Homo sapiens: one gene and its partner. The protein of the gene in region 1 interacts with the protein of each later gene in a pairwise test. Each region holds a gene or a part of one and is shown on either strand. Other genes may lie near its edges.

Evidence for each region. Proteins that work in one complex are often made in the same cells at the same time.
Region 2: the proteins of ACTL7B (region 1) and CASP6 interact in binary tests that used the Homo sapiens proteins (3 or more experiments, as listed by UniProt).

What each region holds. Positions count from the first base shown.
Region 1 is NC_000009.12:108,853,598-108,861,174, reverse strand, and holds ACTL7B (actin-like protein 7B), read left to right. Parts: upstream 1-5,188; 5' UTR 5,189-5,244; coding exon 5,245-6,492; 3' UTR 6,493-6,587; downstream 6,588-7,577.
Region 2 is NC_000004.12:109,699,874-109,707,444, forward strand, and holds the start of CASP6 (caspase-6 isoform alpha precursor), read right to left. Parts: upstream 3,573-7,571; 5' UTR 3,523-3,572; coding exon 3,483-3,522; intron 1-3,482.

The sequences.
Region 1 (7,577 bases):
TCTCCTGACTGTGGCTTCCTCCCCAGGATGTGCTGGGACACAGCTTGATGGGACCTAGCGTGCAACTCTTAGGCTGTTTGGCCACCATCTTGCATGCCATTTCTGAAGCTGGACACATTGGTGTGGATGCCTGCCACACTCAGGGCAGAATCCAACCTTATGTTATGCCACACCCTGAACCTGATCCCAGCCCTTCATAAAAGAGGCAGTCACCACAATAATGGGCTTTCTCCTTTAGAGAGGCTACGGGAGTTGCTCTCAGTTCCTTGTTGGGTATGAGAGAAGAAAAGGACCAAGTCCAGTCTCATGAGGTTTGTGGTGACTATCTGATGGGGGCAGCAAGGTGTCATCCCAAGGACAAAATCTCAGTTTCTTGCTTCATTGGTTAGTGGGTGAGATAATAGCATGGAATTTTAAAGGAAAAATAGGAAAGTACTTTTGATGCCTGGCTGCCTGAAAAACAGTTTAATTGCCTCTGCCGTTCAGGGATTTGCGTGGGCAACTCAGATTGTTTGACTTTATTTCAAAAGTGCTGTATATGGTAACCAAAGGCATATGTAATTTAAAACCCTCCATTTTTTTCTTCCCAAACCCTACTTGAATGTTGCGAAATCTATAGCTGCTTGGTGCCTTTTCACTAACCTGGACTCCTAGAAGAGCCTGTATTAGCTTCCTGTTTCTGCTGTAACAAATTACCATGGATTTAGTGGCTTAAAGCAATTCACAGTTATTATCTTACTATTTTGGAGGTCAGAAGTTCGTAATTCTTCTTAGTGGGCTACAATTAAGGTTCTTTCAGGGCTGTATTCCTTCTGGAGGTGTAGGAGACAATACTTCCTCTTGCCTCCAGCTCCTAGAGGCCACCTGTGTTCCTTGGCTCATAGTCCCTTCCTCCATCTTGGAAGACTCTCAGACTAGAGCTGTCATTGTCACATCTGCTTCTCTGCCCTTGACCCTCCTGTATCCCCCATATAAGGACCCTTGTGATTACATTGGCCCCACCCAGGCCATACAGGATACTCTCCCCATCTCAGATTCCTTCATTTAATCACATCCACAGAATCCCTTTTGGCATGAAAGTTAATATAGTCACAGGTCCCAGGGATTAAGATGTGGACACCTTTGGAGGACCCTTTCACCTGTTCAGTGCCTCCCTCTTTGCTAATACACTCCAAGCCTGACATGCTCTGACTCATTTGCTCTTCGTGGGCTGCCCAGGCTTGCCCATCTGTCATCTGTCATCACACTTTCTGCATTTGTGTGTGGAAGAGGTGATGCTTTAGTGTAAGGCAGTCACTCTATCTAGTCTGTAAGGTCCTTGAGCATAGGGATTCCCCTCACATTCTCTGAGCAAAAGCCAATGAAACACTTGCCCTCCTTTTACTTCACCACTGAGTTTCACATGTTGGGTGCTCCTAATAAAAACCCTGTTTCCCCTAAGCTTCCTGTTACCCTCTGTGCCTCTTCTCTCCCTCTATGGGTCATCACACGGTTAGTGGTAATGATGGAAGAATGCAGAGACTGTGGACACCGTGCCCCAAACCTCCACTGCCTAGCACACACACCCCCCATAATTGTCACCAGCTAAGGTCTGTGTGGGCCCTCTGGGGTCCCTAGTGAGGTCCCTCTTGGGAGAGGCACCCTATAGTGCTCAAAATATATTGGGCCACATTTTCTAATGGGATCACACCTACTTTTAGCCCTCTGGCTCAAGACCAAAAAAACCATGGGATGACCCCTTTTCAAATGCAACCCTGGGATCCTCTTCTATAGTGGAGGGAGAGAACATGGAAAGGTGAGATTAAAGAACACACTTCTGCCTGAGGTGCATCCTGGCTCCTGGCTTCAGTTTTGGGACACTGCCCACCCTTGACCTTTGGAGGAGAGGTGAGCCAGGCCTCTGGAATTTTAGCAGCAATGGGAGGGAAAAAAAGAAAATCCAGCATGGCATTTCTTCTCATGAATCACCTGGAGTTTTTCTTAAAAATTACTGGAGCCCACCACAGCCTTTCCAACTCTTGAATATGCTGGAGAACCCCTGAGTCAGGAGCTCCCAACAAAGAAGATCCTTGCCAAACAGGCACTTTGAGCTGCTTTCTCACAGCTCAGATCCCAGTGTGGACACCCAGGTCCCAAGACTGTGTCCATTTCCCCGAGGTGGAAGGGAGAGGAGCTGTCTTCAGGGGCAGATGTGCTACTGAGCATGCAAATGTGGATCCGGATGCTTCCCTTTCCATGTGCTCCAGCCCAGTGTCCCACAGCCTAGTGACCTTTGGGCATCTCTAAGTCAGCAGACCCCAAATGTGAGTGTGTGTGTGTGTGTGTGTGTGTGTGTGTGTATGTGTGTGTGTCACCATCATCCACTTAGCAGCTCAAGGCAGAGACCTGGAGGCTGTGGGTAGGGGTCAAGTTGACGAGGGGACATAGCAAAATGGTAATCACATTCAAACAACATTTCAAGTAGTTTACCCAAAGTCATACAGATTATAAATAATAAGTCTATGTTTGAACCCAGGTCTTCGGAATCCAGTTCCTCAGTCTTCCATCTGCTCTGTACTGCCTTTCTGTAAGGAATGGATAAAAAGTAGGCTCTGGCAGTCCATGAATACTGCCTTTAAATAGCCTAAGAGTTGTCGTGGAAGAATTTGCTTGCCCCGTAGAACTTCAAGAGTAGACCCAAGACCATTTAATGGCTTCAGAGAGGTACACATGCCAATCCAGTGTGACGAAACGTTTATCACTCATGGCTGGCCAAAATAGGGTGAGCTGTCCATGTCAGACTACTGGATGGAATGTTCTAGAAGGAACTGAAGGGTCCAATCCTCAGCTTCTGTGATTTCATGATCCCACCACAGGGCATTTCTGGGTCATGATGTTCATAATTATAACCCTTAGAAAGTTGTTACCCAAATAATATAGTTGAATGCTGCCATGTTCCAAGAAACAATTCAGCGGGCTGGGCATGGTGGCTCACACCTGTAATCCCAGCACTTTGGGAGGCCAAGGCGGGCGGATCACGAGATCAGGAGTTCAATGTCAGCCTGGCCAACATGGTGAAACCCCGTCTCTACCAAAAATACAAAAATTAGCCAGGCGTGGTAGCAGGTGCCTGTAATCCCAGCTACTGGGGAGGCTGAGGCAGGAGAATCGCTTGAAACTGGAAGGCGGAGGTTGCAGTGAGCTGAGATCGCGCCACTGCACTCCAGACTGGGCGAAAGAGCGAAACTCTGTCTCAGAAACAAACAAACAAACAAAAATTTGGCAAACAAAAATCCCCACACATTCCTCATTAGCATTCTTACATGCTCCATGGCAGTATTTCTTAACTCTTTTTCCCCCATGCATGTTGCCTAATCAATTCCTCAGGCACCTCTGCTCATCTTAATTCTCCCAGAAAACTTCCTCAGGCCCAGTTGCCGCTCTTCCCCTTTTTCTGTTGACTCTTCACCACCAAAGCCCTAAACTGCCTTTTTGATTTTTGGAGTGGGAGGGGGCAGCTTAAGTTGCAGGTCCCTCTGGCACTCTCGTGAATTTGTCCTTTCTGGATGACAGGCCATCTTTCTTTGCCCGGGTACAAGTAAGCGATTCATCCTTCCCTCTGCCTCACATCCCACATCACAGGAGCCCATGAGGGAAGCCCTGAAATGTCAGAGTAAGAGCTTGGATTAAAGTGAGGGATGGTTGGGGAAAAAACAGATTGGATTCTATTCTACTTTCTAAGTTTCTCTAGAACTAGGCTCTTCCTTGTTTCCACACTCTCACAGCCCTAGGTCAGGCCACCTTCAAGTCTTATCAGAAGTTCTCCAATGGCCTCGTTTCGGGTCTCAGTTTCTAGTCTTGCCCCTCCCATCCATTCTCTACATTACAGCCCAATGCAGATCTTTCTAACATTTTTATTTTTCTTTTCTTTTTTTTTGAGATGGAGTCTCACTCTGTCTCCCAGGCTGGAGTGCAGTGGTGCGATCTCAGCTCACTGCAACCTTTGCCTCCCAGGTTGAAGCAATTCTCTGCCTCAGCCCCCCAAGTAGCTGGGATTACAGGCACCCGCCACCATGCCCAGCTAATTTTTGTATTTTTAGTAGAGATGGGGTTTCACCATCTTGGCCAGGCTGGTCTTGAACTCCTGACCTCATGATCCACCTGCCTCAGCCTCCCAAAGTGCTGGTGGGATTACAGGCATGAGCCACCACGCCCGGCCCTTTCTAACATTTTTCTAGAGGGCAAATCTGATCATTCCCCTGCTTAAAGTCTTCATAGCTTCCCTGGCTCTCCTCAGTTTAGTCTAAACCTACTCCTGCCATTTGATGCCCTTTCTATTTGGCTCTGTGACTTCTCTAGCTTCATCTGTTTTTCCAAACACTTTGACTGTGGGAAGTTCTTCACCGTGCCTCCATTTGAGCCTTTGCTCAAGCTGTGCTCTCTGCCTGGGATGTCTTCCCCTCCTCTTAACTACTTGACAAATACCTACACCTCTTCCAGGATTCAACTTAAGCATCACCTCCTCTCTAGAGCACCTTCTGACTGCCTGTCTCAAATGAGTTCTCCAAGTAGACTTCTTCCTGCAAACCCATCGGCACCCATTCCATTTTCTTGTCTAGACTGGGCACTGCTGGTGGCCTGGGTTTTTAATCATCTATCACTGGCAGGCTGCACTGGGCGGGACCTACTATATACTCCAGTAAATGTGGAGTGAAGGGAGGAAAGAACTCTTGGGGCGGTTAAGGAGGCCTGGTGCATTGGAGTTTGATGAATTTGGGTTAAGGTACAAACACCCCAAGTGCTGTTTGCTCTTGGGCAAGTCCTTAGAATTCTGAGCCTCATTTCCTCAGCTCTGCCTACCTGCAGAACAACATAAGTGAAGTAACTAGTACAGTGCCTGCCTTACTGGAGGGGCTCAAATAGGCCCTCTCCACCAAGAAGCAGAAGAGGAAAGGTGTCCAGTAGTGAACAGGTTAGGCATGGAAATGCAAGGGGGCTGAGCAGAAACCTCTGAGACCCTAGTGTGCTTGGATTTCTAAAACTGCCGGCCACCTGCTCTGTCCGGGAGCAAACTTGAGTTAGAGAGGTGGGGGTGACACACCAAGAACCGACCAAAGCCAGGCCCTCCCCTGCTGCCTGAATGGACCAGCCCCGAGTGACATCACAATCCCGGGTGGTTGTCATGGCACTGCTGGAGGTGGGGGATCTCATTTCTCCCCAGGGGGCTCTAGGCTGTGGATGTGAGAAGGGGAGCAAGGGAGGCAGATGGCGACAAGGAACAGCCCCATGCCCCTGGGCACGGCTCAGGGTGACCCTGGAGAGGCAGGAACACGGCCCGGCCCTGACGCCAGCCTCCGGGACACAGGTGCGGCCACTCAGCTCAAGATGAAGCCCAGGAAGGTGCACAAGATCAAGGCGGTCATCATCGACCTGGGCTCCCAGTACTGCAAGTGCGGCTACGCGGGAGAGCCGAGGCCCACCTACTTCATCTCCTCCACCGTGGGCAAACGCTGCCCCGAGGCGGCCGACGCTGGCGACACCCGCAAGTGGACTTTAGTGGGCCATGAGCTGCTCAACACGGAGGCGCCTCTCAAGCTGGTGAACCCGCTGAAGCACGGCATCGTGGTGGACTGGGACTGCGTGCAGGACATCTGGGAGTACATCTTCCGCACCGCCATGAAGATCCTCCCCGAGGAGCACGCTGTGCTGGTCTCCGACCCTCCGCTCAGCCCCAGCAGCAACCGGGAGAAGTACGCGGAGCTCATGTTTGAGACCTTCGGCATCCCAGCCATGCACGTGACGTCCCAGTCGTTGCTGTCCATCTACTCCTACGGCAAGACCTCGGGGCTGGTGGTGGAGAGCGGGCACGGCGTCTCGCACGTGGTGCCCATATCCGAGGGCGACGTGCTGCCGGGCCTGACCAGCCGCGCCGACTACGCTGGGGGTGACCTCACCAACTACCTGATGCAGCTGCTCAATGAGGCGGGCCACGCATTCACGGACGACCACCTGCACATCATAGAGCACATCAAGAAGAAGTGCTGCTATGCGGCCTTCCTGCCCGAGGAGGAGCTGGGCCTGGTCCCGGAGGAGCTGCGCGTGGACTACGAGCTCCCGGACGGCAAACTCATCACTATTGGCCAGGAGCGCTTCCGTTGCTCTGAGATGCTCTTCCAGCCCTCCCTGGCAGGCAGCACCCAGCCGGGCCTCCCGGAGCTCACAGCTGCCTGCCTGGGCCGCTGCCAGGACACGGGCTTCAAGGAGGAGATGGCCGCCAACGTGCTACTGTGTGGCGGCTGCACTATGCTGGATGGCTTCCCCGAGCGCTTCCAGAGGGAGCTGAGCCTCCTCTGCCCCGGGGACAGCCCTGCAGTGGCTGCCGCTCCTGAGAGGAAGACCTCCGTGTGGACCGGCGGTTCCATCCTGGCCTCCCTGCAGGCCTTCCAACAGCTCTGGGTCAGCAAGGAAGAGTTTGAGGAGCGGGGCAGCGTGGCCATCTACAGCAAGTGCTGAGCCTCGGCATTTCCACAGACAAGGCCTCCAGCACAGATGGCCACAGGCCTCTCTATACACATTTACAGAATTTCACATAAAGGTTTACTCTGAAATGGCTCTTGTCTAGTCTGGGTTTCTTGCTTCTATCTGATAGCAGAGGGTAGGGGGGAGTCGGGCTTAGAAGCGGCAGCACCTTTTGCACTGGAGGTGGGGGCTGTAAGGAAGGGGGCTACCATACTGATCCCACCCCCTCTGCCTGCCTCATGATAGTGACATCATCTCAGGGCCTAGAAAGTGGCCTCCTGTTTTATTAGTACCTCCAGGTTCAAAACCTGATCCAAAGACACTCCTCATCGCTGGCTCAACTAAGGGGGTTGGCTCTGATGAAGGGACTAGCTTGGGTCACCTAGCGGTAGGTTGGAGGAGATGCACAGCTGGGTGTCCGACTCCAGTCTCCTGTTTCTGCTGTTCACAAGTGCTCCCAACCTTAACACTGCCTGATCACTCCAGGTTCCCTAACCTCCCCCTAGTGCCTGCCACCCTCAATATGGGAGCCTAAGGCTGTGCCAGTGCATCTCCAGAGTGTGAAGTGCCATTTCAACCCATCTGTGGGCGTACCCCTTTCAACCACAGCCAAAATTGCAGCTATTTTTCCAGAGTCACAAAGCAGAGCCACTGATTCCAGAGGATGTCAGAGGAACCAGAAGGTCCTTTAGAAATCGGGTCCTCTCCCGGCTATAGAGATGGGGAAACTGGGCTGGGTGCGGTGGCTCACACCTGTAATCCCAGCACTCTGGGAACCCGAGGCAGGTGGATCACCTAAGGTCAGGAGTTCGAGACCAGCCTGGCTAACATGGTGAAACCCTGTCTCTACTAAAAATACAAAAATTAGCTGGACATGGTGGTGGGTACCTGTAATCCCAGCTTCCCCAGGAGGCTGAGCAGGGAGAATCATTTGACCCCAGGAGGCGGAGGTTGCAGTGAGCTGAGGTTGCGTCATTGCACTACAGCCTGAGCAACAGAGCAAGACTCCATGTCCAAAAAGAAAAAAAAAAAAGAGAGATAGGTAAACTGAGACCAGAGAGGAGAGAGCCAGCTTAATG
Region 2 (7,571 bases), on another chromosome or scaffold:
CTCACCTGCTTATCTTTTAACCAATTAGAGTATAAAGAAACAATAACTTCAAGAAAATTAAATCCATATGTCACAACCATCCTCCTCACATGCCAAAATTCTGCACAACTTGGAAAGCACTCATGTCTCAGTGTCCTCCTCGGTGGCAGCAGGCCAGCGGCTCACCTCCTGTGGCTTCTGCTCCATACTGACTGCTGAGCCGAAGGCGGCTCACAACCTAACTCATGGAAGCTGTGCCAAATGGCTGCTCAGCAAACTAACTCATATCCCTCAGGGTGAAAACACTGGAGATGTATTCTTGCTTGGGTCTTTAAAACTCTTGTTTCTCATATTGCCAAAGAAGTAGCTTCCCAGTTGTTAGCTGACACATTAAAATTAATAACTTAAGATGTGAGTTTGGGTTGTCTCAAATATGCCCTCACATTAGTCAAGACCTACAGGTTTAGGAATGGCTAACTAGTATTAAGTAGCTGCTCAAGAAAATCTGTTTAAAATGACGTTCTGGCCGGGCATAGTGGCAAGCCTATAGTCCCGGTTACCTGGAAGGCCAAGGCAGGAGGATCTCTTGAGCCCAAGAGTTCTAGGACATAGTGTGCTATGACTGCCCCTGTGAATAGTCACCATACTCCAGCCTGGGTAACAGAGCTAGACCCCATCTCTTAATACATTCAGTTTCAAAGTTAACAGATTTGGCAACCTCAGTGAGGGATTTTTTTTTTAAGTTTTTTGTTGTTGTTGTTGTTTGTTAATGCTACGGATGTAGAAAAAAACCTAGGCTCTGGACATCCCAATTCTGATGCTGGCCAGCTGTAACTTACCTTCACTCTCACAAAGTGCACCCTGCATCCTGCAGTACCAGTTAATGACCAGGTCCAGTGGCCACTCTAGCAAACACTGAATCAGAACAAAAAGCTATGGAGACAGATGCCAGGACCTAAGTTCCAATACTTTTCTGGAGTTGATAAACTTTACCCACAGATTGAGAGAAAATAACACATCATGACCACCTTGAGCTGTGTATCCCAAGAAGACAAGCTTTCCAGAAGGGGGCACTTAAGTATCATTATGCCGCATTAATATTTATTTTTTATTACTATCTTTTTGGGATGGAGTCTTGCTCTGTTGCCTAGGCTGGAGTGCAGTGGCGTGGTCTCGGCTCACCACAACCTCCGCCTCCGGGTTCAAGCGATTCTCCCGCCTCAGCCTCCTGAGTAGCTGGGATTACAGGCATGCGCCACCACACCCAGCTACTTTTTTTTTGTATTTTCAGTAGAGACAGGGTTTTGCTATGTTGTCCTGGCTGGTCTTGAACTCCTGGCCTCAAGTGATCCACCTGCCTCAGCCTCCTGGAAGTGCTGGGATTACAAGCATGAGCCACCACGCCCGGCCTGCGTTAATATTTAAAAACCTGGATAAAGTAAGAAATAGCTTTATTGATATGGAGAAAATAAATTTTAATGAAGGAGCTACCCTGTATAACAGATATAGAAATTCCTTTTCATCTGCAATCTACTTATCAAAAATGTGCCCTTCTTTAAACCTGATTCTTGACCTCTTTTCACTTTTTTTTTTTGAGACAGAGCCTCCCTCTGTCGCCCAGGCTGCAGTGCAGTGGCGCAATCTTGGCTCACTGCAAGTCCACCTCCAGGTTTCAAGCGATTCTCCTGCCTCAGTCTCCCCAGTAGCTGGGACTAGAGGCGCCCACCACTGTGTCTGGCCCTCTTTTCACTTCTCTTCCTTTGCAGGATAATGTAACTGCCACCTCCTTATTCCTTAAATCAGCTTAGGTTTTACAAAACTAATCATTCCTTTTTTCACCTCACTCTAATTTGATAGTCCCTCCAGATAATCCTGCCAGCTACCATTTGTTGATGGCCTGATGCCTTAGATACCTTATCTCACAGCTCCACAGCTCAGGAACAGGGACAGAGAAAGTGGGCCAGGCGTGCCAAGGTCGGCAAAGTGAAGCTGGGATTGAAAGCCAGCCCACCTACAGATTCCAAAGTCTCTGTAGGCCCATCCCCACGCAGCCCCTCCCACCCGAGACCGGCTACCTTTCTAAACTTTGTTCAACTTCCCAAACGACTTCGGTCATTCTACTGTCATCGTCTTCATTCACTGCACTCTCTATGAAAATCTACCCATCGGCTCCATCAACAATGTATTTAGTAACCCTATGTAGAGTAACCTCCATCAGGCCTAGAACATGCACTGGGGAGTGCGGTGGAGGAAGAAGAGGAAGGGAGCAGGTGAGTGAAGGAAAGCCCCGGCTTCCCGCCCCTAGAGACTGCAACTGGACCCTGCACTGTGCCTCCAGGACAAGGCTACCTATCTACCTCCTCTACGACCATGTGACTTTTACAGCTTGCCTCTGGAGCACCATTTCCTTTGTGCAGCAAAATATAAAGAGTTCTTAAACAAAGGCACTCTAACCAACTGCAGGCGTTTCGTTCTTTTTTTTTTTTTTTCTTCTTGATTCGAAGTCTCACTCTGTCGCCGAGGTTGGAGTGCAGTGGGGCGATCTCGGCTCACTGCAACCTCCACCTCCAGGGTTCAAACGATTCTCTTGTCTCAGCCTCCCCAGTAGCTTGCGCCCAGGCCTGGCTAATTTTTTTGTATTTTTAGTAGAGACGGGGTTTCACCGTGTTAGTTAGGCTGGTCGAGAACTCCCGACCTCTGGTGATCCGCCCGCCTCGGCCTCCCAAAGTGTTGGGATTACAAGGCGTGAGCCACCACGGCCGGCCAACTGCAGGCGTTTCGACCTTTTTGTTTGTTTCACTCTGGCCAGGCTTGAAGTTTCTAAACTTTACCAGTAATAAGTGACAGAACGTACGCTCTTAGCAGTTGATTACTTTGCAGAAAAAAGTTATTGTGGTTTTGGCTCAAACCGACAGACAGCAGCAGGTTTCCTGGATGAAGAAGAGAGATACCGGGGTGTGCTGGCCGCCAGGAACTGGCCGCCTCCAGCTGAAGCCCGGGAGGACCCAGGGTCTTGGCCCGGGCACCCCGCGGGCCTGTTATGTTTTCATTATGACTCGGCGGAACAACCCCTCCTTTTCACTTTTCGAAGTGAGCAAACAAAAGATCCAACCCCCAACATTTCAAACGGCCAGGTGTGGGGGAACGCCAGGCCCGCGTGGGGACAGCCTTTTAAGGTTTAAACAGCCGGGGCGCCCCGAAAGCGCTCATCGCCCCGGAGGACAAAGGCGGCAGGGGCACGCCCCGGCGCCGGCGTCGCTACTCGGGACCGCCAGGAGGCGGCAGCCAGGTCCCCGAGTGTTTCTTAGACTGAAGCGCGAAACCGTCCCCACCCGCCCTGAGCGCTTCAATCCAAGAGTGCAACTTCTCCAGGCCGCCCTGCAAAGCCGAAGGAACCCGCGGCCCCACTCCGGTCCGCGCGCCCGGTCCACTAACCCTCGTTTCCCCTCCAGCCGGAGCAAGACGCAGACCTGCTCGGTGCCCAGTCGACGCCCCCTGCCTACCTGCCGGGTGCCCCCTGCGGAGCCCCGAGGCCGAGCTCATTGCAGCCAAACGCGCAGCCAGACACCTTGCCCTCCTCTTCCTGAAGCCACAGGCTCCCGGGCCCGGCCCCGCCCTCGGCCCTTCCTCGGCGGCCCCGCCCCCTGCCCCCGAGCGTGGGGCCAGTTGGTTCTGATTGCGCGCCGCCCGGGCTCCCGTGGATCGGGCTGGTCCTTCCCAGAGTTAAAGCTCCTCCCAGTCGCTCCGGAGCCCGCGGGGACCAAGAGCGCGGGGGCAGGGAGAGGTACGCGGTCTTCGCCTCCAGGCCCGCTGGGACTAACCGTGCCCTGGGGACATGCCAGTTGCCACCCGGGGGGACACACAGACCGCCTAGCCCGAGGCAATTTCACATCACTTGTGTGAGCTCGGACTCATTTAATCCCAGCTGCCCCAAACATTTGCTATTCCTTACTTTGCTATGCCTGTACTTTCTAGAGGTACAGGCATAGATTGTTTTATACCGCTTAGCAGATACTGCCTGTATTTCAACATTGGCTCGCTTTGTGTCTCTGTGTCACATTTTGGTACTCTCGCAATATTTCAAAATTTTTCATTGTTATTATGTCTGCTGTTGTGATCTGTGATCAGTAATCTTTAATATTATTGCAATTGTTTTGGGGCACCATGAACCGCGCTCATAAAGGAAGGGGAAATTAATCCATAAGCCCTGTATGTGTTTGGACTGTTCCACCGAACTTTCCCTTCTCTCTCCCCCTCCTGGGGCCTCCCTATTCCTGGAAACACAATTTTGAAATTAGGCCAACTAATAATCCTACAAAGGCCTCTAAGTGTCCAAATGAAAGGAAGAGCCTGTCACTTTAAATCAAAAGCAAACATGATTAAGTTAGTGAGGAAGTAATGTTGGTAGGCAGAAAGCTAGGCTTCTTGCTCCAGTTAGCCAAGTTGTGAGTGCAAAGGAGAAAAGCCAAGTCATGAATGCAAAGGAAAAAATTTTGAAGGAAATTAAAAATGCTACTCCAGTAAACACACAAAAGACAATAAAGCTAAACAGCCTTATTGCTGATATGGAGAAAGTTCTAGTTGGTCTGGATAGAAGATAAAAACAGCCACAACATTCCCTTAAGCCAAAGCCTAATCCAGAGCAAGGCCCTAACTCTTCAATTCTATGGAGGCTGAGAGAGGTGAGGGAATTGCAAAAGAAAAGCTGGAAGCTAGCAGAGAGGATGGTTCCTGAGGTTTAAGGAAAGAAACTATCTTCATGACATAAAAGTGCAAGGTGAAGCAGCAGGTGCTAACGTAGAAGCTGCATCAGGTTATCCAGATCTAGCTAAAATCATTGATAAAGGCAGCTACACTAAACAACAATCTTTTGTTTTTGAGACAGTCTTGCTTTGTCACCAAGGCTGGAGTACAGTGGTGCGATCTTTTGCAACCTCTGCCTCCTGGGTTCAAACGATTCTTCTGCCTCAGCCTCCCAAGTAACTGGGATTACAGGATGTGCCACCATGTCCAGGTTAATTTTGTATTTTTAGTAGAGACAGAGTTTCACCATGTTTGGCCAGGCTGGTCTTGAACTCCTGACCTTGAGCAATCTGCCCGCCTCGGTCTCCCAAAGTGCTGGGATTACAGGTGTGAGCCACCGTGCCCAGCCAAAACAACAGATCTTAAATGTATATGAAACGGCCTTCTATTGGAAGAAGATTCCATCTAAGACTTTCATAGCTAGAGAGAAGTCAATGCCTGTCTTCAAAGCTTCAAAGAACAGGCTGATGCTCTTGTTAGGGGCTAATACAACTGATGACTTTAAAGCCAACATTCCTTTACCATTCTGAAAATCCTAGTGCCCTTAAGAATTATGCTAAATATGATCTATAAATGGACCAACAAAGGCTAGTTAGTGACAGCACATCTATTTACAGCATGGCTTAGAGAATATTTAAAGCCCACTGTTGAGCTCTAGTGCTCAGAAGAAAGGTTCCTTTCAAAATATTACTCCTCATTGACAATACACCTGGTCATCCAAGAGTTCTGATAGAGATGTACAGAGACTGATGCTGTTATCGTGCTTGCTAACACAACATCCATTCTGAAGCCCAGGGATCAAGGAGAAATTTTGACTTTCAAGTCTTATTTACAAAATACATTTCATAAGGCTATAGCTGTCATCATGATTCCTCTGATAGTTCTGAGCAAAGTAAATTGAAAATCTTCTGGAAAGGATTCATCATTCGAGATGCCATTAAGAACATTTGTGATTCATGGGAGGTCAAAATATCCACTTACGGTATGTAACTAGAGACTAGAGGGGGAAAAAAAGAAAAACGAAAAATTAAAAGTACATGTATCAGCCACAGTGGCTCATGCCTGTAAACCCAGCACTTTGGGAGGCCAAGGTGGATTGCTTGAGGCCAGGAGTTTTGAGACCAGCCTAGGCAACAATGCAAGACCCTGTCTCTACAATTTTTTTTTTTTTTTAATTAGCCAAGAGTGGTGGCACATGCCTGTATTCCCAGCAACTCAGGACACTAAGATGGCAGGATTATTTGAGCCCAAGTTTGAGGCTGCAGTCAGCTGACTGTGCCACTGCACTCCAGTCTGGGTGACAGAGTAAGACACTCTTTAAAAAAAAAAAAAAAAAAAAAAAAAAAATATATATATATATATATATATATATATATAATATATATAAAATACATATATAAATATTTAAAAATTATATATATTTCAATTGGCACACTGGGTGGTATTTTACAGGCAGGACAACATACCTATCCATTTTATATATATATATATATATATATATATATATATATATATACACACACACATATACACACACACATACATTATACATAGGTATATGCATATATCTCCACATTAACAGGAGTTTGAAAGAAGTTAATTCCAATCCTCATCACTGATGTTGAGGGGTTCAAGACTTCAGTGAGGGAAGTCACTGTAGATGTGGCAGAAGTAGCAAGACAAATAGAATTGGAAGTGGGGCCTGAAAATGTGGCTGCATTGTTGCCATCTCATGATAAAACTTTGATAGATGAGGAGATGCTTTTTACGGATGAGCAAAGAAAGTGGTTTATTGAGATAGAATCTACTCCTGGTGAATATGCTGTGAATTGTGTTTAAATGACAACAAAGGATTCAGGGTATTAGTTGACAAAGCAGTGGCAGGGTTTGGGGGGATTGACCCCAATTTTGAAAGAAGGTCTGTGGATAAAATGCTACCAAACAGCATCACATGCTACAGGGAAATCTTTAGTGAATGGAACAATCAATGGATGGCCAGGTGCAGTGGCTCATGCCTGTAATCCCAGGACTTTGGGAGGCCAGGAGTTCGAGCCCAGACTGGCCAACATGGCAAAACCCTGTCTCTACTAAAAATAACAAAAATTAGCCGGGCACGGTGGCAGGCACCTGTAATCCCAGCTACTCAGGAGGCTGAGGCACAAGAATCACTTGAACCAGGAGGCAGAGGTTGCAGTGAGCCAAGATCATGCCACTGCACTCCAGCCTGAGTGACAGAACGAGACTCCATCTCAAAACAAACAAAAAAATGAAGCAAACTTCCTTATTGCCTTATTTTAAGAGATTGCCAGTCATCCCAGCCTTCAGCAACTACCACCCTAATCAGTCAGCAGCCCTCAACAATACCCCACACCAACATTTATAACTCGCTGAAGGCTCAGATGATCCCTAGCATCTTTTAGCAATATTTTAAAATTAAGGTATATACATTATTTTTTTAGACATGTTATTGCACACTTAACAGACTACACTTTAGTATGAAAAACTTTCATATGCACTGGGAAACCAGAAAATTTGTGTGACTCTTTTATTGGTGGTCTGGAACCAAACTCGAAATCCCTCTGAGGTATCCCATAGGGGGTGGCATATATGTTCCTGTTTCATGTGTAGTCCTTTCCCCAGTGCAAGTTACTTTGTAGGACTTGCAGTAACTTATTTTAAATGTTCTTTGTATATGAAACTTGGGCCAAAGTAAACTGGAGGTAACTCCTGGATTTTTTTTTTTTTTTTTTGAGACAGTTTAGCTGTTGTTGCCCAGGCTGGAGTGCAAT